6 separate regions of the Homo sapiens genome follow, and regions 1, 2, 3, 5 and 6 are each linked to region 4. Evidence: fine-mapped expression QTL. A gene starts in region 4. Each other region holds a variant in brackets. All regions are shown on one strand. Distances are from middle to middle.

Region 1 (5,170 bases), 470 kb before region 4:
GTGAAACCCTGTCTCTACTAAAAATACAAAAATTAGCTGGGCATGGTGGTGCACGCCTGTAGTCCCAGCTACTCGGGAGGCTGAGGCAGGAGAATTGCTTGAACCCGGGAGACGGAGGTTGCAGTGAGCTGAGATCACACCACCACACTCCAGCCTGTGCAACAGAGCAAGACTCTGTCTCAAAAAAAAAGAAAAAAAAAGAAATGTTAACTGTTTAGAACAGCTTGGCATACTGTGTCTTGTTTGTTTTTACTTTTTTTTTTTTTTCTTTGAGACAAGGTCTCGCTTGGTCACCCAGGCTGGAGTGTACTGGTGTGATCATGGCTCACTACAGCCTTGACCTCCCGGATCAATTGATCTTTTACCTCAGCCCCCCAAATAGCTGGGACCACAGGTGTGCACCTCCAAACCTGCCTAATTTTTATATTTTTGGTAGAGATGAGATGTCGCCGTGTTACTCAGGCTGGTGTCAAACTCCTGAGCTCAAGCAAACCCAAAGTACTGGCACTACAGGCATGAGCTCCCTGCCTGTCTAGTAATTTTTGTTTGGTTGGGTTTTTTTTTTTTTTTTTTTTTTTTTGAGGCAGAGCCTCACCCTGTCGCCCAGGCTGGAGTGCAATGGTGCGATCTCGGCTCACTGCAACCTCTGTCTGCCAGGTTCAAACGATTCTCCTGCCTCAGCCTCCTGAGTAGCTGGGATTACAGGTGCCTGCCACCATGCCCAGCTAATTTCTGTATTTTTAGTACAGACAGGGTTTCAACATGTTGGCCAGGCTGGGCTTGAACTCCTGACGTTGTGATCCGCCCACCTTGGCCTCCCAAAGTGCTGAGGTGTGAGCCACTGCACCCAGCCCTGGCTAGTAATTTTTTAATAGTGATTATAATTACAAGCAAAGGTGTAATATATGTTTGTAAAAGTATTAAGTGAACTAGGCTGGGCATGGTGGTTCACGCCTGTAATCCCAGCACTTTGGGAGGCTGAGGTGGGCGTATCACGAGGTCAGGAGTTTGAGACCAGCCTGGCCAGCATGGTGAAACCCCGTCTCTACTAAAAATACACAAATTAGCCAGGCATTGTGGTGCGTGCCTGTAATCCCAGCTACTTAGGAGGCTAAAGTAGGAGGTGGAGGTTGCGGTGAGCCGAGATCGTGCCACTGCACTGCAGCCTAGTCGACAGAATGAGACTCCTTCTCAAAAATATATATACATTTATTAAGTGAACTTTCCAAAAAAGTGGACTTCAGCCAAGTGCAGTAGCACACTCATGTAGTCCTAGCTACTAAGAAGGCTAAAACCTTCACTTGATAGCCTTATTGAGAAATATAAGCCTATATTCAAAAGAGACTTTTCATTCCTTTTAAAAATGTCACTTCTGTTTTTATTAACTTGTGATGAGGCATATGTTGTTGTTGTTTTCTTTGTTTTATTTATTTATTTTTTGAGACAGAGTCTCACTCTCTCACTTTGTTGCCCAGGCTAAAGTGCAGTGGCACAATCTTGGCTCACTGCAAACTCTGGCTCCCAGGTTCAAGTGATTTTCCTGTCTCAGTCTCCCGACTAGCTGGGACGACAGGCGCACACCACCACGCCCGGCTAAGTTTTGTATTTTTGGTATAGATGAGATTTCACCATGTTGGCCAGGCTGGTCTTGAACTCCTGAGCTCAGGTGATCCACATGCCTCAGCCTCCCAAAGTGGTGGGATTACAGGTGTGAGCCACTATACCTGGCCTTGATGAAGCATATCTTAAATAAAAGGTGTGGAGTGTTTTTTTTGTCGTTGTTTTTTTTTAGAGACAGGGTCTCACTCTGTGGCCCAGGCTGGAATGCGGTGGCATGATAAAGCTCACTGCAGCCTCAAACTCCTGGGCTTAAGCAATCTTCCCACCTTAACCTCCTGAGCAGCTAGGTACAGGCACATGCCACTGTACCTGGCTCACTTTTAAATTTTGTAGAAACCAGGTCTTGCTCTATTTCCCAGGCTAGTTTCGAAATCATAGCCTCAAGCATTCCTCCTGCTTCGGCCTCCCAAACTACTGAGATTACAGGTGTGAACCACCATGCTCAGCCTTAAATAAGATTTTAAATCTTGAAAATAACAAAATTTCTCTCTTTCCTCTTTCATGTATAAAGTACATCATTTCTAGAATTAAGGATTTTGTTATAAAGACCAGAATATCATCAATATGAAAAATAATTTCCCAGTTGATAGTTCATTTGAATTGTAGAACTCAGTTGCAAAGATAAAGGTAGACAGGGCAGCTGGGTGCGGTGGCTCACGCCTGTAATCCCAGCC[G/A]TTTGGGAGGCCAAGGTGGGCGAATTACCTGAGTGGTGTTTGAGACCAGCCTGACCAACATGGAGAAACCCTGTGTCTACTAAAAATACAAAAAAATTAGCTGGGTGTATTGGGGCATGCCTGTAATTCCAGCTATTCAGGAGGCTGATGCAGGAGAATCACTTGAACCTGGGAGGTGGAGGTTGTAGTGAGCCGAGATCGCACCATTGGACTCCAGCCTGGGAAACAAGAGTGACTCTGTCTCAAAAAAAAAAAAAAAAAAGGGTAGATAGGGGTGAACACATATTTGAAACTGGATATGTTTAATGGTGATGTTGCAAGTTATGTATCTTCAGAATGATTTCTTTCAGATAAAAAACACATAAGATTTTACTAGGTTATAAAAATCTTAAATACCTGGGCTTTTTTTTCTTTGTATTTTTGAAAGAAGGAACATTTTTTACCTGATAATTTTTATTTATTTAATTTTAATTTTAATTTTTTTTTTTGACAGAGTTTCGCATTTGTTGCCCAGGCTGGAGTGCAATGGTTTGATGTCGGCTCACCACAACCTCCGCCTCCCGAATTCAAGCAGTTCTCCTGCCTCAGCCTCCCTAGTAGCTGGGATTACAGGCATGCGCCACCATGCCTGGCTAATTTTTGTATTTTTAGTAGAGACAGGGTTTCTTCCTGTTGGTCAGGCTTTTCCGGAACTCTTGACCTCAGGTGATCCACCTGCCTCGGCCTCCCAAAGTGCTGGGATTACAGGCATGAGCCACTGCACTGTGCCTTTATTTAAAAATTTTAACTGTTTCTCCTTGTGGTGTTAGCATCACCAGTGGAAGCAGCATGACCTTTAATGTCACACAGTCCTAGGTTTAAGCTCTGCTCCTTCCATTTACTCACTGTGACCTCAGGAAATTTAGTTGAACTCTCTGAGAATTATTTTCATAATTTGTAAAATGGGAACAATAACCCAAAGTTTGTTTGATAGATTACACAATTTATAATTGACTGAATTTATCCCACATATAGTGGATGTTCAATAAATGGTAGCTATAATTGTTATTGTTTTGGTTATGATTATAAATCCACCAGCCTGGAAAACATGGTGAAACCCCATCTCTACAAAAAAATACAAAGCTTAGCCAGGTGTGGTGGCGTGTGCCTGTAGTCCTAGCTACTCAGGAGGCTGAGGTGGGAGAATGGATTGAGTCCTGGAGTTCAAAGCTGCAGTGAGTCACGATTATACCACTGCACTGCAGCCTGCTTGACAGAGAAAAGATCCTGCCTCAAAAAATAGTAATAAAATTAAATGAAAAACTGACTGTATGTGGTGGCTCACACCTATAATCCCATTAGTTTGGGAGGCTAAGGTTGGAGAATCCGTTGATCCCTGGAGTTTGAGACCAGCATGGGCAACATGGTGAGATCCTGTGTCAAAACTAAAAAATAAAATAAAGTCCTTTATAGCCTGTTAATTTGGTTAGGTTTTTAGTTGCATTTATTATTCTATGTGTGTGTGTTTTTTGTTTTTTTTTGTTTATGAGACAGAGTCTGACTTTGTCACTCAGGCTGGAGTGCAGTGGCGTGATCTCGGCTCACTGCAGCCTCACTTCCCAGGCTCAAGTGATCCTCCCACCTCAGTCTCCCAAGTAGCTGGGACTACAGGTGCACACCACCATGCCCAGCTAATTTTTATATTTTTCACAGAGACAGGGTTTCTCCATGTTGCCCAGGCTGGTCCCAAACTCTTGAGCTCAACTGATCTGCCCACCTTAGACCAGAATTTAGGCATGACCCACCACTCCCGGCTGCTTTTATTACTTGTTACAGATCATTTAAGGGTAGAGTAATATTCACCTTTTTGTTCTCCATAGTGTCTAACAGAGTATTTTGTGTTTACAACTCAATACATTTATCTATTTAATGAATAATTGAATTCATACACATTATAGCTTAACTTTAGTTAAGTCAGAACTACAAAATTTGTGTGATGACATCTTGGTATAAAGGAAAAACTACTTTCTCAAATTATTGGGCCAGCCTTGATGTTCTCTGTAATTAATTGCTATGGCAAATCAAGATACATATTTAATACATTTATTTTAATTTGATTAATTTTTCTCTGATATTTTACACTTAAAAGAACCCAAACCTACAGAAAAGTTATCTTTCTTTTTGATGATGATTGCATAGACTACTTGTTCCATTTTTTAATAAAATGTTTTGATTTGAAGGTCAATTGATTTGGGTAACTGACACTAAATTTCAGTAAGTTTCAAGTAGGATGTCCAATCTATGTTTAACTGTTGGAGTCTTTGTTGGAGACTGTCCAAAGCTCCGAACTGGAGGAGATGAGCAGATTGGAAAAAATATTGTAGTTGGGTAAACTCAGAGGTTAAATTGATCTGCTGCATCCACCCCAGGTGGTATCAGGGAATGAAAGAAAAAAGAATGCCTTAATCATTGGCTCACTGCAAAAACAACATAGAAAAAAAAAAGTGGTATAATAGAGCAATGGGGAAGCATTCAAAAAACATTACTGGGTTGAAGTATTTTGGTGAACCTTATTTGAAGGTTATTTGCTGATTAAGATAAGCAAAAGCTATTTCAAAATGTTAATTTTTTCCCTCCACCCATGAAATCTGGTTTATGCTCTCACTTAAAGGATAGTGTAAAATAGCTGAACTGAAGATTCGAACATTTCACCAGAAATTTAAGCCACCTGTCCAGGGTTTATTTAAAGCCTCTGATATTTGATCACTTCACTAAAACAACTTAGGACCATGCTGACCATGCTGATTTAGTTGGGCCACATTTTCTAAGATGCTATACATGATCACAAATGATATCATTATACTACAATGTCTAACAGCTCATTTCTGCTCAATAGA
Region 2 (5,170 bases), 23 kb after region 4:
TACTACAAGGCTACAGTAACCAAAACAGCATGGTACTGGTACCAAAACCGGTATATAGACCAATGTAACAGAACAGAGGCCTCAGAAATAACACCACACATATACAACCATCTTATCTTTGACAAACCTGACAAAAATAAGCAATGGGGAATGGATTCCCTATTTAATAAATGGTGCTTGGAAAACTGGCTGGCCATATGCAGAAAACAGAAACTGGACCACCCTCCCTTACACCTTATACAAAAATTAACTCAAGATGGATTAAAGACTTAAATGTAAAACCTAAAACCATGAAAACTCTAGAAGAAAACCTAGGTAATACCATTTAGGACATAGGCATGGGCAAAGACTTCATGACTAAAACACCAAAGGCAATGGCAACAAAAGCCAAAATTGACAAATGGGATCTAATTAAACTAAAGAGCTTCTGCATAGCAAAAGAAACTGTCATCAGTGAACAGGCAGCCTACAGAATGGGAGAAAATTTTTGCAATATATGCATCCGACAAAGGGCAAATACCCAGAATCTACAAGGAACTTAAATAAATTTACAAGAAAAAAGCAATCCCATCAAAAAGTGGGTGAAGGATGTAAACAGACACTTCTCAAAAGAAGATATTTATGCAGCCAACAAACATAAAAAAAAGTTCATCATCACTGGTCATTAGAGGAATGCAAATCAAAACCACAATGAGATACTATCTCACACCAGTTAGAATGGCGAGCATTAAAAAGTCAGGAAACAGATACTGGCAAGGATGTGGAGAAATAGGAATGCTTTTACACTGTTGGTGGGAGTGTAAATTAGTTCAACCATTGTGGAAGACAGTGTGGTGATTCCTCAAGGATCTAGAACCAGAAATACCATTTGACCCAGCAATCTCATTACTAGGTATATGCCCAAAGGATTTTAAATCATTCTACTATAAAGACACATGCACACATATGTTTATTGCAGCACTATTTACAATAGCAAAGACTTGCAGCCAACCCAAATGCCCATCAATGATAGACTGGATAAAGAAAATGTGGCACATATACACCATGGAATACTATGCAGCCATAAAAAAGAATGAGTTCACGTCCTTTGCTGGGACATGGATGAAGCTGGAACCATCATTCTCAGCAAACTAACAAACTAACACAGGAACAGAAAACCAAACACCGCATGTTCTCACTCATAAGTAGGATTCAAACAATGAGAACACATGGACACAGGGAGGGAAACATCACACACCAGGGCCTGTCAGCAGATGGGGGCAAGGGGAAGGAGAGCAATAGGACAAATACCTAATGCATGTGGGGCTTAAAACCTAGATGACGGGTTGATAGGTGCAGCAATCCACCATGACACATGTATACCTATGTAACAAACCTGCACATGTATCCCAGAACTTAAAGTTTAAAAAAAAAAAAGTTTAGCCAAAAATTAGAGATTACAGAACATGGGAGATATTTGTAGCTTACATTTTGCCTAAAACTGATGTTTCTTCATGACTAGACTCAGATTGTTGACCCTTTTTTGTGTTAATGTTAATAATAGCACAGTAGTCTTGTATCCTTCTTTGTTAATCAGCACCTGATACAAATTTCTTTTAATATAGTTGATCTTAATTTATTTACTTGGTAAATACGCTTTCTGACAGATATTTTTCACTCTACAGTTCATTATTTTTCTCTATTAATAGATACCTTGGGGAGTTTATCAAGTGATGTGCAAAAACAAGATTTAGCCATGTTTAATCTGACAGCTCTTCTTTCTTCCTACCTTCTCTTTGCATATCGCTTGCTATGGAAAATGAAGGCTCTCGTCTTTCTTTACTGGTCAAATAAACTAAAAACCTAGGCTGTGCCACTTACTGAATTTTTGACAAAATATTCTCCTTGGGCCAGAAGCAACGATACCACTGGCAAACTTCTTACAAATTTGGAAACTCAAGCTTTACGCTAGATCTTCAGAGTCAAAATCTAGGTTTTAACAAGATCTCCTGTTCATTGCTATACACAATAAGATTTGAGAAGTATGCTTTTAACTCACCATGAAGTTTCCATATGGGAACTATAGACAGCTTTTCTTGTATTATGTAAATGTAGCATTAAGAAATGTACATGCCTGTGTTAATGTCCTTTATTTTATACTGTATCATCAAGAAAAGTATTGCACATACACTGGTTTCATGATCTTATGCCATCTTTTCTCAGAGTTAAAAATACACTAGAGAATATTTCTGTGCTAGAAAGTATCCTACTGGATAACTCCAGTAACTCATATAAGTCAGAACCAGCTATCTTTATTCTCATTTTACCTGATGTCAAATCAAGAATTCTTTCT[A/G]TGGTCACTTGGTAAATATGTTTTGTTTTCCAGGGAGTGTTGACATTCAGGGATGTGGCTGTAGAATTCTCCCCAGAAGAGTGGGAATGCCTGGACTCTGCTCAGCAGCGTTTGTATAGGGATGTGATGTTAGAGAACTATGGAAACCTGGTCTCCTTGGGTGAGAATAACTTCAATATACAACTCATATTCTACATTAAATATTTTATTTTCTTCTGATTTTTTTGGAGGTTCTGCTTTGCATAAATGAGTTTCAGAATCCTGCTTCAAAAAGAAAAAATTGGGTATCTGTTGAGGTAGAAAATATAATCTTCAAGATGTTTCATCTTAACATTAATCTTTCCCTTTTTTGAGCTCATCTGTATACTTCAGTCTAAATTAGTGGTAATATCAGAAATTTAGTAGCATAAAATATTGTTACCCACACCTAAAAATGCAATTTTCACAGCTGATTTTTGATTCAGTATTACTGGGTAATAGAGCTAAGAACCACAAATTTAAAATACTTTCTAAATATTCTAAAGTTTCTGTTAGGAAACAGTATATTAAAATTAATTTTCTAGAGTCTTCTATAATGTTCTCTCTTCTCTACTGAGCATAGTACTAGATTAGTAATCAGATTATCCTAGCAAGAGTCATGTTTTTTTTTCTAATAAAACAGGTCTTGCTATCTTTAAGCCAGACTTGATGACCTGTCTGGAGCAAAGAAAAGAGCCTTGGAAAGTGAAGAGACAGGAGGCAGTAGCCAAACACCCAGGTAGGTGGGAGTGAATGAAGCAGATGACACAAATGACGGATCCCAATGTCAAGGAGGAAGCCAAACCTTTAAACATGCTTCCAGAAGCTCTGCTCCAGTGGAAATGGTTTCTGAGAAACCTTCATTTCTTTCTCTTGCTTTAACATAGGGACATTTTTTGTCCCATTCTTGTGAATTTTCCAAGCACTGTACTTCCCCTTCAGTAATGTGTGTGTGTGTGTTGTGTGTGTGTTTTGTTTTGTTTTTTGTTTTTAGTTTACAGCAATAATGAAAGTCTTTCATGGCTTGACAGAAAATGTGTGATTTGACTGCTTTTCCATTGCTTTGGGGAAACAGCAATATCTGTATTTTTGAGAAACTATATTAAACCATTTTTTTAAGTTCTGTTTTTGGATAATGTCTAAATATTTAAGTTTTGGTGATATTACAGTTTGGATCAGAAATCCCAGGAATACCACAAAAAGATGTGTGCTTCCTGCTTTATAATTTTCTATTCTATGGAACCTTCAAACGTGATTTTACAGAAATTTATACTCAGTAATTATATCAAAACACTAAGCATCTCCCTAAATGAAACAAACTCTAAAATTGTGTTACTTCAAATGTTATTCTTTTCATATAAACAAATGTTGGTAAATATGGCCAAATTCCTCAACTGTATGTATTATAGTTCATTGTATCTACTTCATACGTTTATTAAATATACTATGTCATTGGGGAGCTTAAAACATTGCTGAGTATTTTTTTTGTTTTGTTTTGTTTTGTTTTTTTTGGTTTTTTTTTTTTTTTGAGACAGAGTTTTGCTCTTGTTGCCCAAGCTGGAGTGCAATGGCACGATCTCGGCTCCCTGCAACCTCCGCCTCCCAGGTTCAAGCGATTCTTCTGCCTCAGCCTCCCTAGTAGCTGGGATTACAGGCATGTGCCACCACACCCGGCTAATTTTGTATTTTTTAGTAGAGACAGGGTTTCTCCATATTGGTCAGGCTGGTCTCGAACTCCCAACCTCAGGTGATCTGCCTGCCTTGGCCTCCCAAAATGCTAGGATTATAGGTATGAGCCACTGTGCCCAGTCTGCTGAGTACATATTAAACTCTCAATTTTAACTTTATTTTAAACGACATCGTTTTGTGGTTTTATTTAGTATGAAGCTCACTGTGATTGTGTCATTCATATGTATATATATAAACACATTTATATACGCATGTGTATGACACACATATAATCCCAGTAAGGCGAATTTTTTCACAAATAATAATTGAATACCTATGTATTGTATACAGTGTATTGATTTTGTATGTGTATACATAAAGAAATGATTAATACAATCAAATTAATGAACAAACACATTTATGACCTTACAAGTTACCTTTTTTGTAGTGAAAACAATTAAGATCTCTCAGCAAATTTTCAGCATACATAACAGTATTACTTTCAGTAGTCATAAAGCTGTACCTTAGGTTACCATAACTTGTTTGTCTTTTAACTGAAAATTTGTACCATTTGAACAACATACTCCACTTTCTCCACCTCCAGGGCCTAGCACTCACCTCTATACTCTCTTCTTCTAGGAGTCCAACCTTATTATATTCTCCATAGAAGTGAGATCATACAGTATTTGTCTGTTTCTGTGATGTTTCACTCGGCATAACATCATCTAGGTCCATCCATGTTGTAGAATGTCAGGGTTTTATTATTTTTTATGGCTGAATAATATTCTATTTTGTATACATGCCATGTTTTTTTTTTGTGCAGTCAGTTTCCACAAACACTTTAGATTGCTTTTGTATCTTGACAATTGTGAAAAATGTTTCAATGAACATGGAGGTGCAGGTATTTCTTTGAGATAGTAAATTTATTGTATATGCAGAAATGAGATAGCTGAATTGTATAGCAGTACTATTAAAAAATTTTTAAAAGAACCTACATACTAGATTTCATAATGTCTCTAAAAAATTGTACGTCACTAAAATTGTACAGCATCTTTTCTTTAATATATTGTCAACACTTGTTATAAATCTTCTTGATATTAGCAGTCCTAACAGGTATAAAGTAATATCTCACAATGAATTTAATTTGCATCT
Region 3 (5,170 bases), 63 kb after region 4:
TAGATATATCAGTGAAACCAGCATACAGGTGATGTGACTCTTCTTCCAGAGTCCTGCCTACAAGGAGGAATGTGGCATTTCACTGGAACAGCACCCACTCAGCTGATGTGACTTTCCTTTCTTCTCTCTGCCTACAGGTAATATTGTGCCATATACCAGAGACCAGATCAAAGGCCTAATAAGGACTCTTGTACCTGGAGCCAGGACTTGTGCAGGATGGTGACTCTCATCCCTGAACATTTCCACAGGTGTTATTGTGACATATACCTGTGCCCACCTCCTGAGTGATTTAATAATCCTGCCTGTTATAGCCCACAGATGACATATTGACGTATACCTGGGCCAAGAACCTTGGTGATTTGACTCTCATATCTTAACAGTGTCCTCAGAAGGGACCGTCACATATCTCTGGACCCATCATCTAGGTTATGTGACTCTCCTCTCCTACCTGAACCCTGCTTCCAGTGAAGAGTGTAGCATTTCTAAGCACTGCATCCAAATGACATGACTCTCTTGCCTGGGCCCTTTTAACAGGAGTTGTGACATATCTCTAGGCCCATCACTTAGGTGATGCGACTCTCCTTTCCTGCCTGGATGTTCTCCACAAGAGGCATTATGCCATAGAGCTGAGCCTAGCACCCAAGTTTTGTGACTTTTCTGTTAGGGCCCTGCCTACAAAGAGAATATTGGAATATTTCTGGCTTAGGATTTAGGTGATGTGGTTGTCCTGCCTGTTTAATAACTACAGAGGGGATGGTGACACATACCTAGGCACAGCTAACGGGCATGATAATGACTCATATGTGGACCCAGCCAATAGGAGAAATTTTGACTCATAACTAGGTTTAGGGACATGAGTGATGTAAAGGGTCTCCTTCTGGTAAAAAGGTCACAGAAGATTATAACACACACATATTTTATAACACCCTTGGGTTGTATAGAGAGTGTCAGAACAGGGCCTAGCACATGGAGAAAATTGTGAGTCTCATATGCACACCCACCTGACAGTAAGGACTTTCACCATCACAGATGGATGAAGGCAACTGTCCTACATGAAAACAGAACATGTGTGGTATTGTAAATCTAATCCCTAAAATTTTATTTCATCGTGATAGTCATGTGATATAAATTTCATGTGATATAAATCTTTGCCAAGCACCTGTGAGATTTCACTCTTCAGACTGGTTCCAGCCTACATATGGGATTTTGATATCTACCTGGGCCAACCTTGAAGTGTTAAAGAACTCTTCTGCCTGGGCCCTACTCTCAGTAAGAATTGTGACATCACTGGATCCAGCACGCAGCTGCACCATGCCCACAGACATCATCGTGACATATCTCTGTGTCCATCACTTAGAAGATGTAACTCTCCTCTCTGGAAAAGACCCTACACACAGGGCAGAATAGTGACATATTCCTAGGCCAGGCACACAGGTGATGATACTTTTTTGCCAGGCCATGCCCAAAAGAGAACATTTTGACATATCAGAGGGCCTATCATGTAGGTGATATGGCTCTTCTTGGGACCTACCACTTGAATAGTGACATATTGCTAGGCTATGCAAAAAGGTGATGGTACTCTTTTGCCAGGGCCATGCTTTAAGGAAGGCTTTGTGACATATCTCTGGGCCTATCACCTAGGTGATGTGACTTCCTGCTTGGCCCTGCCCACATCGAGCATTGTGACATAAGGGTGGAACCTGCACCTAGGTGATGGAACTCTCTTGCTTGGATCCTTTTCTAAGGGGGACTGGTGAATATCTCTGGACCCAGGACCAGGTGATGTGGCTCTGCAGCCTGGGTTCTGCCCACATATTAAATTGTGACATATACTTAAAGAAGCACCTATATGATATGACTGTCTTCTTCTGCCTGAGCCCTGCCTACTGGTGACATTGGACCATATCTCTGAGCCCCTGACCTAAGTGATGGGACTCTCTTCTGTCTGGGCCTTTACAATGGGAAGATTGTGACATGTTGATGAGCCCAGCACTTCGGTATTGTGACTCTCGTCTTGTTGCTGAACAATGCCCGTGAACAGGACTTTTGCCGTATTTCAGAGCCCAGCACCCAGTTGATGTTACTCTTCTGCATAAACAGGTCATGCATAAAGAGGGAATTATGGCATATTGCTTGGCCCAGCCCCCTAATGATGTGACTCTCCTGCCTGTGCCAGAGCCACAGAAGGTATTTTGGCATATCTTTGGCCCATTTTGTAGGTGTTTTGGCTCTCATCAGTTTGCTGGGTTTCTTCCACGTGTGGTTGTATCATATTGCTGGCTCAAGCCATCAGTTAATGTGAGCCTCTTTCCTAGGCCCTGCCTAGAGAGAGCATTGTGACATATTCCTTGGCAAAGCACCTAAGTGATGTTAACATTCTGCCTAGATTTTTTGCCCACAGATGGGATTATGACATATACCTTGCTTGAGTTCAAAAGCATGATTATCAAGCTTATATTGGGATTCAGCCAATAGGAGATACTTTGCCCCCTACCACTAGGTTTATGTCAATAGGTAAGGTCCTTCATTGCATATTTGTACAAAGCTCACAGAAATTTACAACATTAACTCATATCATAAAAACTTTTTGGGTGGTACAGAGAGTTTCATAACAGGGCCCAGCAAAAAGTTAAGATTGTGACTCTCAACTACACACTCAGGTGAAAGTAAAAGTTGTTACCATCCTACATTTACAAAGCCCATTGTTGAGGTCCTGAATCTAACAAGTGAAGACAGCACAAAGTTGGAATTGTGACTTTCTTAAGTGATTCTGGTCACAGTTGGGATGGTGACTCATTTCTGGACCCAGCTCATAGGCATAATAATGTTCTCATCCCTGAAGCCAACCCAAAGGAGAGATGTTGACTGTCATACCTGGGTTTAGGGTATGTGTCCACCTCATAGGTTATGTAACTCTCCTCTCTGGAATGGGCCCTGCACAAAGGAAGGATAGTGACATATTGCAAGGCCAGGCACAGAGATGAGAGTACTCTTTTGCCAGAGCCATGCCCAAAGCAGGGCATTGTGACATATTTCTGGGCATATCACCTAGGTTATACGACTCTCCTGCTTGGGCCCTGCCAATCTGGAGAGTGAC[A/G]TATTTCTAGGCCAGGCACACAGGTGATGGTACTCTTTTACCAGGGCTATGCTTCATGGAGGACACTGTGACATATCTCTGGGCCTATCACCTAGGTGAAGTGATTCCCTCCTTGGACCCTACCCACATGGAGCATTGTAGCATGAGCAGAGAACCTGTACCCAGGTGATGTAACTCTCTTGGCTGGGTGCTGTCCTAAGAGAGCCTTGTGACCTGTCTCAGGACCCAGCACCCAAATGATGTGGCTCTTCTGCCTGGTCTCTGCCCACATGTTACATTGTGACATATTCCTAGGGAAGCACCTATGTGATATAACTCTCCTTGTCTGCCTGAGTCCTGCCTGCTGGGGACATTGGGACATACCTCTGACCCCATGACCTAGATGATGTGACCCTCTTTTTCTGCCTCAGCCTTCACAATAGGAGGATTTTGACACAATGCTGAGCCCAGCACTCAGAATATGTTACTCTCCTCTTTTTGCTGAACCATGCCCACAAAAAAGGAATTTGGACCTATTGCAGGGCCCAGCATCGAGATGATGTTACTCTTCTGCCTGGGTTCTGCAAAAGAGGAAATTGTGGCATATTGCATATTTCTTGGCCCAGCATTCTTATGATGTGACTCTCCTGCCTGTGCTGGAGCCACCGAATGTATTTTGACATATCTTGGACCCATTATGTAGGTGTTTTGGCTCTTATAACTTGGCTGGGTTTTTCCACGTGAGATGGTGTCATATTGCTGGGTCCAGCACCCAGTTATTGTGGCCCAATTTCCTATACCCTGCCTAGAGAAAGCATTGTGTCATGTTGCTTGGCCCAGCACCTAAGTGATGTTACCCTCCTGCCTAGTTTTTGCCCACAAATGGGATTATGGCATATACCTTACTTCAGTTCACAGGCATGATGATTAAACTTATATTGGGATTCAGCAAATGGGAGATATTTTGCCTCTCATCATTACGCTTAGGGCAATAGGTAAGGTCCTGAGTTGCATATTTGTACCAAGGTCACAGAAGCTTACAATACTAACTTATATTGTATAAAGTCTTTGGTGGTAGAGAGTTTCTTAACAGGGTCCAGCAAAAAGTTCAGATTGGGACTGTCAATTACACACCCAGTTGAAATTAAAAGTTGTCACCATCCCACGTTTACAGTGCCCACTCTTGAGGTCCTGAGTCTAACAAGGGAATACAGCACAAAGTTGGAATTGTGACTCTTATACGTGGATCTGGCCACAGGTGGGATGGTGACGCATTTCTGGACCCGGCCCACAGGCATAATAATAGGTCTTCTCCCTTAACCCTGCCTAAAGGAGAGATGTTGACTATCAAACCTGGGTTTAGGGCAATATGTAAGATTGTGAGTCCATACGAGCATGTGGGCCTCAGAGAGGTCTGCAACTCTCATGCAGGTTTTATAAAGCCCTCAGATGTCATAGAGAGGGTTATACGTTGGCCCAGCACACATGTGAGATTGTGACTCTAATATACACACTCAGCTAAAAGTTAAAGGTGTCACCCTCAAAGATGATGAGATTGTGTCATATCACTGGGCCTAGTACCCAGGTGTTGAGACTTTATTCCTTAAATTCCTTTCCATGGGTGCATTGTTACATATCACTGCGTCAGAATCATATGAATGTGACTCTTCTGCCTGGGCCCTGTCAACAGGGGATATTATCACATATCTCTGGGCCTATGAGCTAGATGATGTGTCTCTCCAGCTTGTGCCCTGGGTTGTATGTATCTCCTTTCTATTCTGGACTCTGCCAAGAGAGGGGATTATTACATATTTATGAGCCCAGCAACTAGGTAGTGTGACTCTTCTCTTTTTCTTAAACCCTTTCTATAATAGGATTGGTGACATACTACTTGAGACTTTACCCAGGTGATGTGACTCTTCTGCCTTGTCCCTGCCCACAGGAGAAATTGTGCCATATACCTGGGTTCAGCTCACATGCACAATAATAACTCTTATACCTGGACCCAGCCAGTAGAGATATTTTGACTCTCATAGCCAATCTTACAGCCAAGGGTAAAATCCTGGTTCTTCCACTTGTATAAAGTTCACAGAG
Region 4 (5,170 bases):
AAAGGATTATATGGATGGGAGTGAGCCTGGGATGGGCAGGGCTGGAACCAGAATCCTGAGGCTTGGGAGAAGAGAATCAGGACTACACCCTTAGATCTCAGCACTTGGCAAACTTCCTCTCATGAGAGCGTCACGGCTGCCTCTGTGAGCTGAGGTATCAGGCCCCTCTTCCCTATGAATGTTGAAGATTCCACACCAGCCACCAGTCCCTGTTCCCTGAGTGATGAAGCTGCAGAGCTGTCTGCTTGCAAAGCCCAGTGAGGTTTTGCCTGAGCTGGACTCAGACTCTCCCTCAGATGGTGCCAATGGAAGGATAGTAAACTTAGGCCTCTCCAAGGGCAGGCAGCTCGTATGTGGCTGAGCACTTTTGTTTTTTGTTTTTTGGTTTTTTTTGAGATGGAGCCTCCTCTGTCACCCAGGCTGGAGTGCAGTGGCATGATCTTGGCTCACTGCAAACTCCGCCTCCCAGGTTCAAGCAATTCTCTGCCTCAGCCTCCTTAGTAGCTGGGATTACAGGTGCCCACAACCACGCCCAGCTAATTCTTGTATTTTTAGTAGAGACGGGGTTTTGCCATCTTGGCCAGGCTGGTCTTGAACTCCTGACCTGGTGATCCACCATCCTCAGCCTCCCAAAGTACTGGGATTACAGGTGTGAGCCACCGTGCCTGGCCTGGCTGAGCACTTTTTTAAATGGGAGCCCTCAGTTTTTATGTCTGTCATCAAAGAGAGTTGGGGTGGGAGGTCCCTGAGCCTCAGCTCCCATTGTCCCCTTTGAACCCCAGAACCTGCTGCAGACCCAAGTCCTGCTTTGTGCACATCCCCTGCCCCTGGTGGCCCTGGCAGTAATGCAGTATGAAGAGTGTGGGGAGGGGACCTAGTCAGGGTCCAAGGGGCCTTTCTGATGACCATTGGCTGACTTCTAGGGAAATGTAACACCCAGAAAGAAAAGGAAGGTGAGCAGCTGGGGCAACATTGGGAGAGAGTGGGGAGGTGAAAGTCAGCAACACCCTGTGCTATCAGGTGGTGATGGGGATGAGTATCCACTTTTGGGTGTCCATTCAAGGCCTGTCCCTGAAATCTCATAAGCCCCCATCTCCTGGACTCTCCTATCCACATCTTTTACTTGAAAAAGCCAAAGACACGCAGCTGCCTCTCTCCAACTCTCTCCCCTCTTCCTAGCTGGCCTCCAAAAACATGAAGCACTCCCTTATTAACTCTGTGGTGAGATTTTAACAAGTCACAATGTTATGTGGTCCCTAGCTCCACCGTTTCCCAAATCCACTCAGCCCAGCTCTTCCAGGCCTTTACTCTGATTTCTCTTATAGAGGCATTTCAGGGACTGTTGCCACAGGAGGGAAGGGCTGAGGGAGAAAGGCCCCTTGCTCTTTTGATGTGGAGGCCTCCAGCTGGGAGGGAGGAGCTCTTCCCTCTGAATCCCTGGAGCTCTTCCCCATCACAGGTACCTGCCTTTTTGCTGCTTTAGCCTCATCTGGGCTTTCTGTGGTTTCTTCTCTAGGGTGGCCAACTTGGGTGTCTTCCTCTGCCAGGGTCAAGGACAAGGTCAGTGATATTATGCTCCCTTCACCCAGTTATGCCCAGTTACATTGACCTGGTACCCTGGATAACTGGTGTGAGTCAAGCTGGTCCAGTGCTCCTGCCACCTCCAGTAAACTCTGATTCTAGATTCACTCCCTGCTGCAACACTCACTGTGTGTGGAACCTTGGGCATGCAGCCAGGCCTCCCTGAGACTGTTTCTCAACTTGAAAGTGTGATGGGAACCACACCTACCTCACTGGGCCTCGTGAGGACTCAGTTATATGTAGCCGTCACCATTGTTCTCATCATCATCTCTCTCAGGAAGAGCCAGGCACAAGCACTCTCAAATTTTTCTCCTTTGAAGCTCCTCATTACCCTGTGAGGCTCATCATCCCTACATTTTTTAGATAAGAAAACAGAGGCCCAAAGAGGGCAGTGACTTGCCCAGGGCTCTACAGAAGAGGCCGGCTCCTCCCCACACCTGGAGGCCCTGACCTAGCTGACTTTACCCCACAGCCCAGCACTATCCCTGACTAGGGTCCCATCTTGGTTCTCCATGCTTGTTTAGGTCCTCAGGCAGGCTCAGCTTTGGTGGGAAAGAGACAGGGTGTTTTGGGAGGCCTGGGCGAGTGGCACCTCTAACCAATCTGCTAGGCCCTCACCTCTCAGTCTCACTGAGACACTCCATTAATTGGAAGCAGACCCAAAATTGCTTCACAGACTGAAGGTGATAATTGTCTACAGCCAGCTGAAGCAGCTGCATCTCCTGGAGGACTTTGATCTCCTGCAGCTAAAGGGAAAGACAGGATGCTGAGACAGGGCCTGCAGCATACACATAACTATAATTCAGAATGTAATATATACACACACACGAAAATATAATCAGAAAGTGATATAATCTTATATGCAAGGTTAAATACAAATGTCTCTCAGGCAGGGCCAGGCCCCCAGCACAGGGAGGACTCGCCTGAAAACGCTGCAGGCAAAAACCTGTCACCCTTGCCTCATTCAGCCCAGTGTCTGATTACATCTTCTGTCACTTAGGATTGAAACGGGTGGGGCCTGGAGCCCTAGCCAATCAGTGGCGCCAGCGTGAAACTGTCCAATCAAGTGCGCAGCTACAGAGGAAGAGGCGGCCTCTTCAATATGGCGGGGCCTTTGTCTCCTAGCTTCCGGGCTCTGATCCTAGTTCGCGTCTCCACTGTTCCATCTCCTCCGTTCCTGGAGTTCCTCGGTGACTCTACTATAGCTTCTGTTATCCTGTGACCTGCAGGTACTGGGAGATCCATAGGGAGGACGGCGGAACATCTGGAGGCTGGGAAATGGTGAGTGCGTGGAGTGGGTGTCCCGAGAATGGGGAAGAGGCTGTTTGAATCCGGCCGGAACCGGCTGCGGTGGTATCTGGGCCTTCTCGCGGTCTGCTCTGGAGTCTGCATCCCCGAGTCCCCGCGGGCACAGCTCAATCCTCATTTCCCTCCATCGCAGATTAGGGGCTGAGCCAGCAGCCAAAACGCTACGTCTTGTTTTGTCCCTAAACTCGAATTTCTCCCCAGCTCAGATCCCTTCCTGGGCAGCTCTGTGCCGCAACCTCGAGTCTCCCTCCTCCAGATTGTGTGGGGGTGTTGGGAGTGTCATAAGACGGGAATTCTCATTTAGGGTCTGGAGTTCCTCCGTGGAAGAAGCAGTGGGCCGTGGGGTCCCTAGTCCCTCCTTTCTCCTTTTAAAAATAAAATCATGGCCCTTTTTTAAATTTATTTATTTTTGAGACAGTGTCTCACTCTGTTGCCCAGGCTAAAGTGCATTTCGGTTCACTGCAGCCTCCACCTACTGGGCTCAGATGATCCTCTCACCCCAGCCCCCCAAGTAGCTAGGACTAGAGGGGTGCGCCACCACGCCTATTTTGTTTTGTTTGTTTTTGTAGAGACAGGCTTTTGCCATGTTGCTCAGGCTGGTCTCGAACTCCCCGAGCTCAGGTCTCAGGTGATCCGCCCGCCTCGGGCCTCCTAAAGTGCCGGGATTACGTGCATGACCCACCACCCTAGCCTAAATTGAGGCAACTTTAGGATATAATTTGGATGTGTTTTCCAGCCCAAATCTCCTATTTAAATGTAATCCCCCATGTTGGAGGTGGGGCCTGGTGGAAGGATTGTGGGCCCGGATTTCTCACGAATAGTTTAGCACCATTCCTCTTGGTATTGTCCTCTCAATAGTGAGTGAGTTCCCTGAAGTTCATCATTTAGAAGTGTACAGCACCCCACCTTGCCTCTTTTTCAAGCTCTTGCTTCACCTTCATCCATGATTTTAAGCTTTCTGGGTGGGGCCTCCCCAGAAGCAGACGCTGGTGTTATGCTTTCTATGCAGCCTGTGGAACCATGAGCCAATTAATCCTCTTATAAATTACCCAGTCTGAGGTATTTATAGTAATGCCAGAAGCGATTAATACAAATAGTTTACTTGCACAAACAGTAATTTATCAATCAGAGAACACCCAGCTATGATTTGTTGTTTGGGGGCTCAAAGGAGGGTCTTGGAACAAAAGGTTGTTTTTTTTTTTTAAGAGGTATGAGGAAGCAAACCAGATTCAATATTTGATTGGTTACAGTTACGTATTGCATTTGCAGCCCTCCGGTGGAAATGTCCTGGTTATGTAATTAGAGCTTTTTATTGGCAGCTTGTGGTTGGTTAAGCCTAAGTTGTTTTGTTGTTGTTGTTGTTGTTTCTCAAAGTTAATAATTTACCAGAAATTCCTTCGACGTAGTTAGGTTTCCTTAGGCAGAATCCCAGGGCACCATGGCCACTTCAGCCTAATTGCTAGCTATTTAATTATTTTAATGCTCCACAGGGTCGTTGGTTTTCTCTGCATTTTTCAAATGTTTGGCAAGCAGGGTCTCAAATCTAAAACTGTTCTCCCAGCCTAACTGTTCTAGGGACTGTATAAAATTCTAAATTTCCAATTTCTTTCCCACATTCCCAAATGCCAACTATCCCTCTCCAAATCACATTATGAACTATCAGTTCTTTATTTAATTTTAAAACGGATGTGGCATTTTGTTTATTTTTGTTTAACAGAGCCGTGGGTGGCTCTTTTTAATATATTAGTCTGTTTGTGCATATTTCACAGGACAGAAAAGCAAAGAGTAGTCACCTGACACTGCGCATCTCCTCTCATCTTCTCTAGGCACGCGCGCCTTCCCAGAATGTCTTTGGATCCTTTGCAGGGTGATGTGTCCTCAGTCACTCTCCTGTGTTTTCCTGGTCCAAGTATTACAGCTTTCTGGGGATGATCCAAGATACCCACAAGGACCATATCTCTTGGAGTGTCTAGCAAACATTAGCCCCTGGGTCATCTCCTTTCAGAGAAGAGCCTGAGGCATTGGGTGGAGCCTCTCAGGGGAGCAGCTGGATGCCCTCGTGCTGAGAGCAGTTTCCTGATTCACCCTTCCTCTAAAAAGCTAACTGCTTTAACATTAAGATTTTTTTCCCCTCAATCCTAGTTTTCATTTCTTGCAGACACATTGGTGGTCAACCAATCAGGTGCTGATATTGAGGGGAAAAGGCACAAATGCATCTTGCCCTCTGGTTTCTCTCAGGCTTGTGAAGGAGAATAACTGTCCCAAAGTACAGGAAAGATCC
Region 5 (5,170 bases), 110 kb before region 4:
CATGCCCAGCCTGTTTCAGGGACTTCTGACCAGAAGTTTCAACATGTGATCTCTGGGCAAGATGGTGGCCCAGAGTAACAGAAAAGATAAGAAGGAGAGAGAGAGAGAGAAAGAAGAGAGAGAGAGAAAAGCGTGGCCTATGGTGGAGCAGGAAAGGTGAGGAGCTCAGGAAAGCCAGAGAAAGACCCACGCATTGCAGTGAATCAAAAGTGTAGGTGATCTCTTGTTGTGAAAGAATCTTTTTCAGCAGTCCCATCTGCTCTCAAGTTTCCCACTTTAGGGAGGAAAAAGCTCCCCACGTTCCATGATCCTGTACTCGCCTAATTCTGTCAGCCACAGCCATTAGCAAAAAGTGCAAGGCAGATTAATCCAAAGACAAGGCCGGGTGCAGTGGCTCATGCCTGTAATCCCAGCACTTTGGGAGGCTGAGGTGGGTGGATCAGCTGAGGTCAGGAGTTTGAGACAAGCCTGGCCAACATGGTGAAATCCCATCTCTACTAAAAATACAAAAATTATCTGGGTGTGGTGGTGGGCGCCTGTAATCCTAGCTGCTCAGGAGGCTGAGGCAGGAGAATCGCTTGAACCTGGGAGGCGGAGGTTGCAGTGAGCCAAGTTCTTGCCATTGCACTCCAGCCTGGGTGACAAGAGTGAGACTCTGTCTCAAAACAAACGAACGAACAAACAAACAAACAAAAAATCACAAAGACAACAGTGGTTAACACTCCATAATGCCAAATCTAATCTTAGCTGAGAGGGACTTTACTGAGAGGGGCCTCTAACCCCCTAAATCTTAGGAAAGACTCTAACCTTTTGAAGTTGTGCCTCAAACACAAGTTTTGTCAAGTATTCTTGCCTTTTATTAAAAGAGACCTTTTATCTTATACGTCTTAGGAGAAACTCTTAACTCCACCCAATCCCATTCTTTACCTGGGTACGCCACCACTTGCAAACTCTTAACTCCACCCAATCCCATTCTTTACCTGGGTACGCCACCACTTGCAAAAAGTTAGCCAACTGGTGATTCAGTCTATTTCCTTTGGGTTGGGGGTTTCCTTAGTTTCGTCCCTTTGTGATTCAATGAAATGAAGCTTCCAGAAATGGTCCCAATCCAGAACCGAAGAGTGGGTTCTTGGATCTCGTATAAGAAAGAATTTAGAGCCAGGGGTGGTGGCTTCTGCCTGTAACTCCGGCAATTTGGGAGGCTGAGGCAGGAGGATCACTTGAGGTCAGGAGTTCGAGACCAGCCTGGCCAACATGGTGAAACCCCCATCTTTACTAAAAATACAAAAATTAGCCGGGCATAGTGGTGCATGCCTATAATCCCAGCTAATCCAGAGGCTGAGGCAGGAGAATCTCTTGAACCCAGGAGGTGGAGGTTGCAGTGAGCCGAGATGGCGCCACTGCACTCCAGCCTGGGTGACAGAGGGGGACTCTGTCTAAAAGAAAAAAAAAGAAAAGAAAGAATTTTGGGTAAGTCTGCAGTGCAAAGCAAAAGCAAATTTATTAGGAAAGTAAAGGAATAGAAGAATGGCTACTCCGTAGGCAGAGCAGCAGTGTGGGCTGCTCAACTAAGGATACTTACAGTTATTTCTCAATTATATGCTAACCAAGGGGTGGATTATTAATGAGTTTTACAAGAAAGGGGTGGGCAAGTCCCAGAACTGAGTGTTTCTCTTCTTTTTAGACCATGTAAGGTAACTTTCTGATGTTGCCATGGCATTCGTTAACTGTCATGGCGCTGGTGGGAATGTCTTTCACATTATAATTAGCGCGTAATGATCAGTGAGGATAATCAGAGGTCACTTTCACTCCCATCTTGGATTTGGTGGATTTTTTGGCTTCTTTACTGCAAACTGTTTTATCAGCAAGGTCTTTGTGAACTGCATCTTGTGCCAATCTCCTATTTACCCTGTGATTTAGAATGCCTGACCTCATGGAAAAGCAGTCCTGTAGGTCTCAGCCCCATTTTACCCAGCACCTATTCCAGATGCAGTTGCTCTGGTTCAAACGCCTCTGATATGGCCACAGAGTGCTGGAATATGGCTGGTCTGAACTGCAATGTGCTGGAAAGGTAAAATACAAGAGTACATTCAAAGATTTAGCTTCAAAAATGTATATGCTTTATTAACCATTACATACTAATCACATAGTAAAATAATAATATTTTGGATATGTTGGGCTGATTAAATTGTTACAGTCAATTCCACCTGTTATTCCACCTGTTTCTTTCTTTTTTATTTTGAGACAGAGTCGCTCCGTCTCTAGGCTGGAGTGCTGTGGCATGATCTCAGCTCCCTGCATTCTCTGCCTCCCGGGATCAAACAATTCTCCTGTCTCAGCCTCCCTAGTAGCTGGGATTGCAAGTGCCTGTCACCACACCCAGCTAATTTTTCTATTTTTGGTGGAGCCGGGGTTTCGCCTTGTCAGCCAGGCTGGTCTCGAACTCCTGACCTCAGGTCGTTCACCACCTAGGCCTCTCAAAGTGCTGGGATTACAGGTGTGAGCCACTGTACCCAGCCCCACCTTTTTCTTTTTACTTTTTAACATTTGGCTACTAGAAAATCCAAAATTTACATGTGGCTCATATTTTACTGCAGAGGATTGCCTCCTTTTTGAAATCTCAGGCTGCCTGCATGTATTAGTCCATTTTCACACTGCTATAAACAAATACCTCACACTGCGTAATTTTTTTAAGTGGTTTAATTGAATCATAGTCCTTCAGGGCTGAAAAATCCTCAAGAAAATTACAATCATGACCATGACAGAAGGTGAAGGGAAAGCAAGGCACATCTCACACGGTGGAAAACGAGAGAGAACCGGGAAGGTGGGGAGGGGAGATGTGCCACATTTTTAAACCATCGGGT[A/G]TCTTGAGAGCTCCCTTATTATCCCAAGAACAGGATGAGGATAATCCACCCCAATGATCCAATCACCTCTTACACAGTCCCTACCGTGACACATGGGAATTACAATTTTTTTTTTCTTTGAGACGGAGTCTCGCTCTGTCGCCCAGGCTGTAGTGCAATGGTGCCATGTCGGCTCACTGCAACCACCACCTCCTGGGTTCAAGCGATTCTCCTGCCTCAGGCTACCGAGTAGCTGGGACTACAGGCACGCGCTGCCACGCCCGGCTAATTTTTGTATTTTTAGTAGAGACGGGGTTTCACCGTATTGGCCAGGCTGGTTTGGAACTCCGGAACTCGTGATCCGCCTGTCTCGGCCTCCCAAAGTGTTGGGATTACAGGCGTGAGCCACCGCGCACGGACGGGAATTACAATTTGAGATTAGATTTGGGTGGAGCCACGGAGTCAAACCATATCACTGCAAAGGATCCGCAGCAAGGAAGGTCATAAAATCCGAAATTTTAAAATAATTGTCATTATATTATTTCAATTTGTGAATAACTATATTATATATCATTTATAAATGCATATGACGTTATACACAAGGTTAAATGCAAATATCCTCTGGTGTTGGCCTGGCTCAGATCAGGGAAGAAGCCCTGCCTGTAAAGGGTGCAGCTTAGGCTGTTATTTTTGCTTCATTCAGCCTAGCGTCTGATCAAATATTCCGTCACTCAGGGCGTGAAGGGTGGGGCCTGAAACCTTATCCCATCAGGGGCCATATATTAGAAACTGTATAATCAGGCATGCAGCTGGAGAGAACAGGACGCCTCCGTAATTTTACCGGGCCTTTTGTGTTTCTCTGCGTCCAGAGCTCCAGTTCTTCTCTTCACTGCTCTGCGTCCTCTGCTCTTAGAGGTCAAGCCACTGTGGCCTTGTGTCCTGCAGGTATCCGCAGATTTATGGCTAAAAGACCGGGACCCCCTGGAAGCCGAGAAATGGTGAGTGCTGGGTCTGTCATCGTGAGAGAGGGGTGGGAGGTGGTTGGAACCGGCTGAAAGTGGCTGCAGCAGGACCCATACTTCCTCGCAGTCAGCTCCGGAGTCTGAGGACCCAAATCCTCCTTGGCCCAGTTCGGCTGTTAGCCCCCTCCAGCCCTAAGATGGTGCCTGGGCCAGCGGCTGGGACCCTGGGAGTTCTGTCTTTTTCCTCTGCAGTGGCTTTGCCCTGGGCTGGAGCCCTCTCTGGGCAGCTCTGCACTCCCAGCGCCTCATCTCATCCAGATTGTACAGGGATTGGGAAAGTTATCAGGGGAGAATCCTGACACAGGGTGCAGGATTCATAAGTGGTAAGAGCTGTGGTCCCTGGGGTCCCTAGTTCCTCATTTTTCCTTTTAGAGATGTGTGGGAGTCACTGTAAAAATATTAGAGAATTTAATCAAAACGTGATTCAAGAATCATAGAGCGGGCCAGGCGCGGTGGCTCACGCCTGTAATCCCAGCACTTTGGGAGGCCGAGGCGGGCGGATCACGAGGTCAGGTGTTCGAGACCAGCATGACCAACATGGTAAAACCCCATCTCTACTAAAAATACAAAAATTAGCTGGGTGTGGTGGCACGTGCCTGTAGTCCCAGCTACTCGGTAGTCTGAGACAGGAGAATCACCTGAACCCGGGAGGCGGAGGTTGCAGTGAGCCGAGATCGCGCCATTGTACTCCAGCCTGGGCGACAAAGCAAGACTCCACCTCAAAAAAAAAAAGAAGAACCATAGAGCGCCCAGCTATGGCTTGTGGGTTGTGATCCATGGGAGAGACTTGAAGAAAAGTCTGTTATAAGTTGCATGATGAAGCAAACCAAATGCAATAATTGGTTTGGTACAGTTATTTAGTGTTTTTACTTGGAAGATCCAGGTGAAAATTTATTGGTTATGTCATCAGAGATTCATTGGCAGATTGTGGTTGCCTAGGCCCGAATATTTTCTTCAAGATAGTAATCTCCAATAAATGTTTTTTTTTTTTTTTTTTTTTTTTTTTTTTGGAGAGGGAGTCTCACTCTGTCCTCCAGGCTGGAGTGCAGTGGTGCAATCTCACCTCTTTACAACCTCTGCCTCCTGGTTCAAATGATTGTCCTGCCTCAGCCTCCCGAGTAGCTGGAATTACAGGTGTAGGCCACCACGCCCAACTAATTTTTGTATTTTTAGTAGAGACGGGATTTCACCACGTTGGCCAGGTTGGTCTCGAACTTTTGACCTCAGGTGATCTGCCTGCCTCAGCCTCCCAACAGGCTTGGGTTATAGGCATGAGCCACCACACTCAGTCAAGTTTTTTTTCTT
Region 6 (5,170 bases), 56 kb after region 4:
AATAAAAGGGGGGGAAAGGCTTAAGTGTAGGGCAGGGAAGAACATTTTCATTCTTATGCAAATGATTCCTTCAACAGAGGGAAAAACTTAATTGTTATTGGATGAGGCTGGATCGCTTGGCCGGTGAAGGGGAAGACACCGTGAATGCCTGGCATTTTCCAGCCCAGAGGAGATGGGGGTGAGGAGCCGCCATTCACCTGTCCATCCCGCATATGCCTGGGGCTGTTGGGGTGGTGCACAGTTTCCTCTACCCTCGGAGAAGTCCAAGGATAAAAAGGCTTACAAGCAAAGTAGAAAAAGATATTTTGGTTTACATCTTACCCTTCCTCAAGCCCCACATCTAGACACCGAAATGTAGAACTTTTTCCGTAGTTCGTCTAAAACTAGGATCTTATCACATGAACAGGAACGAATAGGCTAACAGACATACTGAAGGGTGAGGAGTAAAGTTTATTGGGCAAAAAGGAAAAAGAAAAAAAACTGTCAGCAAAGTGAGAGGGACTCCTGTTAACGGGCCCCCACCTCACATATTGATGAACACCAGGTCACCACATAGCAACTGAAGAGTCCAGTCTCCTCCTCTGCCAAAAGGTGTGAATTTCTATGGCTCCAACTTCTTTTCCCAGTGCACAGGTGGGCATTATTCAGAGAGAAACAGTCAGGAAAGGGCGGGCTTCATCTGAAACCAGCAGTCCAGTTTTTCAGCCTTCAGGCTGTTTTTTAGGCTTGAAGGCGGAGTTTCGCCCAGGACCTTTGACTGTCTCCTGTCTCTGACTCAAAATAGGAAAAGGTCCCTTGGCTATCTACTGTCTCTATCACTCAAAATGAGAAAGGAACAGTCTTTTTAACAAATGGGTTGGAGAATACTGAATATCCAAATGACAAAAAATAAAGGTGAACCTTACCACAAGCATGAACTTAGAATGAAGTAGGACTTATTTTTTATAGCTGTAGTAAGTGATTTTTTTCTTGAATTTTTTTTCAGATGGCTTATTCTTGTCATGTAAAAATGTTCCTACTAATTTTTGTATGTTAATTTGGTATTCTGCCACTTTACTGAATTTCTTTATTAATTCTAACGATTTTTAGTGTAGTATTTAACTTTTGCTATATAGACAATTATGTGATCTGCAAACAGAGGCAATTTGACTTTCACCTTTTTTATTTGGATGTCTTTTATTTATTTCTCTTGCATAAATGATCTGACTGGGACTTCCAGTACTCTGTTGAATAAAAGTGGTAAAAGTAGACATCATTGTCTTGTGGTTTGGTGATGCATGATTTAGCACACCTGTGAGGCTGGGACTCCCCTACTGGAACACAATCTTCAGGTGGGATTGGGCATCTTATACATGGATCTTGCCCATTGTTGAGATTGTGAGTCCTCTGCTTTGACCAAAATCACAGGAGGTGTTGACTCACACACACAGAGCCAGGACTTGAGTGGGACTGTGAAACTTATTTCTGAATATTTCGAAGTGTGTAATTAGACCATAAAAGCCCAGCTCCTGAATAACGACTCTTCTTTTCAGGTCATGACCACAGATGAAACTGTGACATATGTGGACCATACACCTAAGCAAAGGTGCCTGGGCCTGCCTACCAAGGGCAATTTTATGAATCACTGGGACCAGCACCCAAGTGATGAGAATTCTTTACCTGATCCCTGCCTATAAAAAGCATTGTGGCTGGCCGGGCGCAGTGGCTTATGCCTGTAATCCAAGCACTTTGGGAGGCAAGGCGGGTGGATCACCTGAGGTCAGGAGTTCAGGACCATCCTGGCCAACATGGTGAAACCCCGTCTCTACTAAAAACACAAAAAATTAGCCAGGCATGGTGGTGGGCACCTGTAATCCCAGCTACTCCAGAGGTGATGCAGGAGAATCATTTGAACCCAGGAGGCGGAGGTTTGCAGTGAGCCGAGATTGCACCATTGCACTCCAGCCTGGCAACAAGAGTGAAACTCCATCTCGGGGAAAAAAAAAAAAAAAAGCATTGTGGCTTATATCTAGGTCCATCATGTAAGTGAAGTGACTCCCTTCTACTGCCTTGGCCCTGCACTTATGATGCATTGTGACACATAACTGGGTACTGCACCCAGGTGATATGACTCTGCGCTTTGGGTTGTGCCAACAGGAAGCTTTGTTAAGCACCAAGGTGATTTTTCTCCTCTCTTGCCTTGCCCTGACCACAGAGGAGATTGTGACATATTGCTAAACCCAGTGCCAAGGTGAGGTCACTTTCATATCTTGGTTTTGCACATAGCGGCCATTGTGACACAGATCTAGGCCAATTGCCTAGGTGAAGTCAGTGTCCTCACCTTACTAACACCTGCCCACAGGGGGAATTTTGATATATCACTAAAACCAGCATCCAGATGATGTGACTCTTCTTCCAGGGTCCTGCTCACAGAAAGATTGTGACATCTCACTGGACCAGCACCCGCGCAGATGATGTGACCTTCCTGCTTGTTCTCTGTTCACAGGTGATATTGTGCCATATACCTGAGGCCAGATAAGAGAACTAATCCTGACTCTTAAATGTGGAGCCAGGTCATATGCAAAATGGTGACTCCCATTCCTGGAACTTTCCACCAGTGTTATTGTGACATATACCTTTGCCTAGCTCCTGAGTGATTTAATAATCCTGCCTAAGTGTAACCCACAAATGAG[A/G]TTTGGAAAATTACCTCAGCTGAGCATCTTGGTGATTTGACTCTCCTGTGTTAACAATATCCTCAGGAAGAATTGTAACATGTCTCTGGACTTAACCATCTAGGTTACCTGACTCTCCTCTCCTGCCTGGACCCTGCTTGCACTAGGGATTGTAGCATTTCTAAGCACTGCGTCCAAATAATATGATTCTCTTGCCTGGTCCTTTCAACAGGAGACATTGTGACATATCTCTGGGCCTATCATTTAGGTGATATGAGTCTCCTTTCTGGACACTGCCCACAAGGGGCATTGTGCCATACATCTGGAGGTAACCCCCAAGTTATGCAACTTTTCTGCCAGGAACAGGCCTATATGGAGAATATTGGAAAATTTCAGGCTCAGCATTTATGTTATTTAGCTGTCGTGCCTGTTTCATTACTGTAGAGTAAATTGTGACATACACCTAGGCACAGTTCACAGGCATGATAATGACTCTCATATGTGGATCCCACAAATAGGATTAATTTTGACTCTCATAACTTTCTTTAGAAACACAAGTGATTAAATCTCTTTCTGTTAAAAAAAAAAAAAAGGAAAAGAACAAAGAAGATTATAACAGCCTCAGATATTTTATAAAGCCCTTGGCTTGTACAGAGCGTGTCATAACAACCCAGCAGAAAGGTGAAATAGTGAGTCTCTTTTTTTTTTTTTTTTGAGACGGAGTATTGCTCTGTCGCCCAGGCTGGAGTGCAGTGGCGCGACCTCGGCTCACTGCAAGTTCTGCCTCCTGGGTTCACGCCATTCTCCTGCCTCAGCCTCCCAAGTAGCTGGGACTACAGGTGCTCGCCACCATGCCCGGCTAATTTTTTGTATTTTTTAGTAGAGATGGGGTTTCAGCGTGTTAGCCAGGATGGTCTCAATCTCCTGACCTCGTGATCCGCCCGCCTCGGCCTCCTGTAGTGCTGGGATTATAGGCATGAGCCACCACACCCGGCCAATTGTGAGTCTCATATGCACACCCAGCTGACAGTAAGGACTGTCACCGTCTCACATATATGAAGCCAACTGTCAGTCATGAAAACAGGACATGTGGTATTGTAAATCTTATCCTGGAAATGTTCTGCCATTGTGATTGTCGTATAAATCTTTGCCGAGCACTTGTGTGATTTGACTCTCCAGACTGGGTCCAGCCCACATATGTTATTGTGATCTCTACCTGGGCCAACCTCTAGGTGATGTGACTCTCTTGCCTGGGCCCTGCTTTCAGTAAGAATTGTGACATATCACTAGATCCAGCACCCAGGTCATGTTACATTTTCTCCTGAGCCATGCCCACAGAAATCATTGTGACATATCACTGTGTCAACCACTTAGGTGATGTAATTCTCCTCATTAGAATGGGCCCTGCACCCAGTGGGGGATAGTAACATATGGCTGGGTCAGGCGCACAGGTACACTTTTGCTAGGGTCATGTCCTAAAGAGGGCATTGTGACAAATCTCTGAACCTATCACCTAGGTGATGTTGCTCTCCTGCTTGGGTCCTGCTTACCTGGATAGTGACATATTGCTAGGCCAGGCACACAGATGTTGGTACTCTTTTGCCAGGGCCATGCCTCAAGGAGGACATTGTGACATATCTCTGGGCCTGTCACCTAGGTGATGTGACTCCCTGCTCAAGCCCTGCCCACTTGGAGCATTGTGACATAAGGGTAGAACCTGCACCTTTTTGTTATAATTCTCTTGCCTGGGGCCTGTCCTAAGGGAGCCTTGTGACACATCTCAGGACCCAGCATCAAGATGATGTGGCTCTTCTGCTTGCTTTCACCTCTCATGTTAGATTGTGTTATATACCTAGGGAAGCACCTAGGCGATATGACTCTTCTCTTCTGCCCGAGCCCTGCCTAGTTGGGACATTGGGCCATATATCTGAGCCCGTGTCCTAAGTGACGTGACTCTTTTCTTCTGCCTGAGCCTTTACAATGGGGTGATATGACATATTGCTAAGCCCAATACTTAGGTAATATGACTCTTCTTTTTGTCTCAAACCATGCCCGTGAAAAGGAATTTTGATGTATTGCAGGGCCCAGCACCCAGATGCTGTTCCTCTTCTGCCTGGGTCCTGCATAAGAGAGAATTATAGCATATTGCTGGGCCCCCACCTGATGATATAACTCTCCTGCCTGTGCCAGAGAAGCAGAAGGTGTTTTTACATATCTTGGGCTCATTCTGTAGGTGTTTTTGCTCTCATCATTTGTCTGGGTTTTTTTCCACATTTGGGATTGTGTCATATTGCTGGGTCCAGCACCCAGTTAATGTAACCCTCATTTTTAGACCCTGCTTAGAGAGGGCATTGTGACATATTGCTTGCCACAGCACCTAAGTTGTGCTACCCTCCTGCCACTTTTTTTTTTCTACAAATGGGATTTTGAAATTTACATTGCTTCAGTTCACAGGCATGATGATCAAAGTTAAATTGGAATTCCACCAAGAGTAGATATTTTGCCTCTCATCGCTATGC

What was found. PIP is the estimated chance that this variant, and not a neighbour inherited with it, causes the effect.
Region 1: its variant is the best candidate, but not a certain one, in a credible set for the expression of ZNF736 in visceral fat (GTEx, PIP 0.88).
Region 2: its variant is the best candidate, but not a certain one, in a credible set for the expression of ZNF736 in whole blood (INTERVAL, PIP 0.67).
Region 3: its variant is the best candidate, but not a certain one, in a credible set for the expression of ZNF736 in nasal epithelium (TOPMed, PIP 0.67).
Region 5: its variant is the best candidate, but not a certain one, in a credible set for the expression of ZNF736 in whole blood (INTERVAL, PIP 0.72).
Region 6: its variant is the best candidate, but not a certain one, in a credible set for the expression of ZNF736 in whole blood (INTERVAL, PIP 0.60).

Annotation. Positions count from the first base shown.
Region 1 is chr7:63,844,413-63,849,582 of GRCh38, forward strand. No RefSeq gene overlaps it. Among named protein-coding and RNA genes, the nearest start is that of LINC02848, 53 kb to the right of the region's middle. The variant G/A (reference allele first, on the strand shown) is at 2,295.
Region 2 is chr7:64,333,894-64,339,063 of GRCh38, forward strand. It overlaps ZNF736 (zinc finger protein 736), which reads left to right. Exons shown (of 4, transcript NM_001170905.3): 2 at 2,366-2,492; 3 at 2,994-3,089. Among named protein-coding and RNA genes, the nearest start is that of ZNF736, 23 kb to the left of the region's middle. The variant A/G (reference allele first, on the strand shown) is at 2,333.
Region 3 is chr7:64,374,430-64,379,599 of GRCh38, forward strand. It overlaps LOC105375321 (a long non-coding RNA gene), which reads left to right. Exons shown (of 2, transcript XR_007060355.1): 2 at 138-5,170. Among named protein-coding and RNA genes, the nearest start is that of ZNF736, 63 kb to the left of the region's middle. The variant A/G (reference allele first, on the strand shown) is at 3,098.
Region 4 is chr7:64,311,292-64,316,461 of GRCh38, forward strand. It overlaps ZNF736 (zinc finger protein 736), which reads left to right and starts at 2,670. Exons shown (of 4, transcript NM_001170905.3): 1 at 2,670-2,862. The coding sequence starts at 2,860. RefSeq lists an enhancer at 2,723-2,902.
Region 5 is chr7:64,203,401-64,208,570 of GRCh38, forward strand. ZNF735 (zinc finger protein 735) reads left to right here and starts at 3,803. Exons shown (of 4, transcript NM_001159524.1): 1 at 3,803-3,841. The coding sequence starts at 3,803. The variant A/G (reference allele first, on the strand shown) is at 2,865.
Region 6 is chr7:64,366,932-64,372,101 of GRCh38, forward strand. LOC105375321 (a long non-coding RNA gene) reads left to right here and starts at 3,591. Exons shown (of 2, transcript XR_007060355.1): 1 at 3,591-4,669. The variant A/G (reference allele first, on the strand shown) is at 2,673.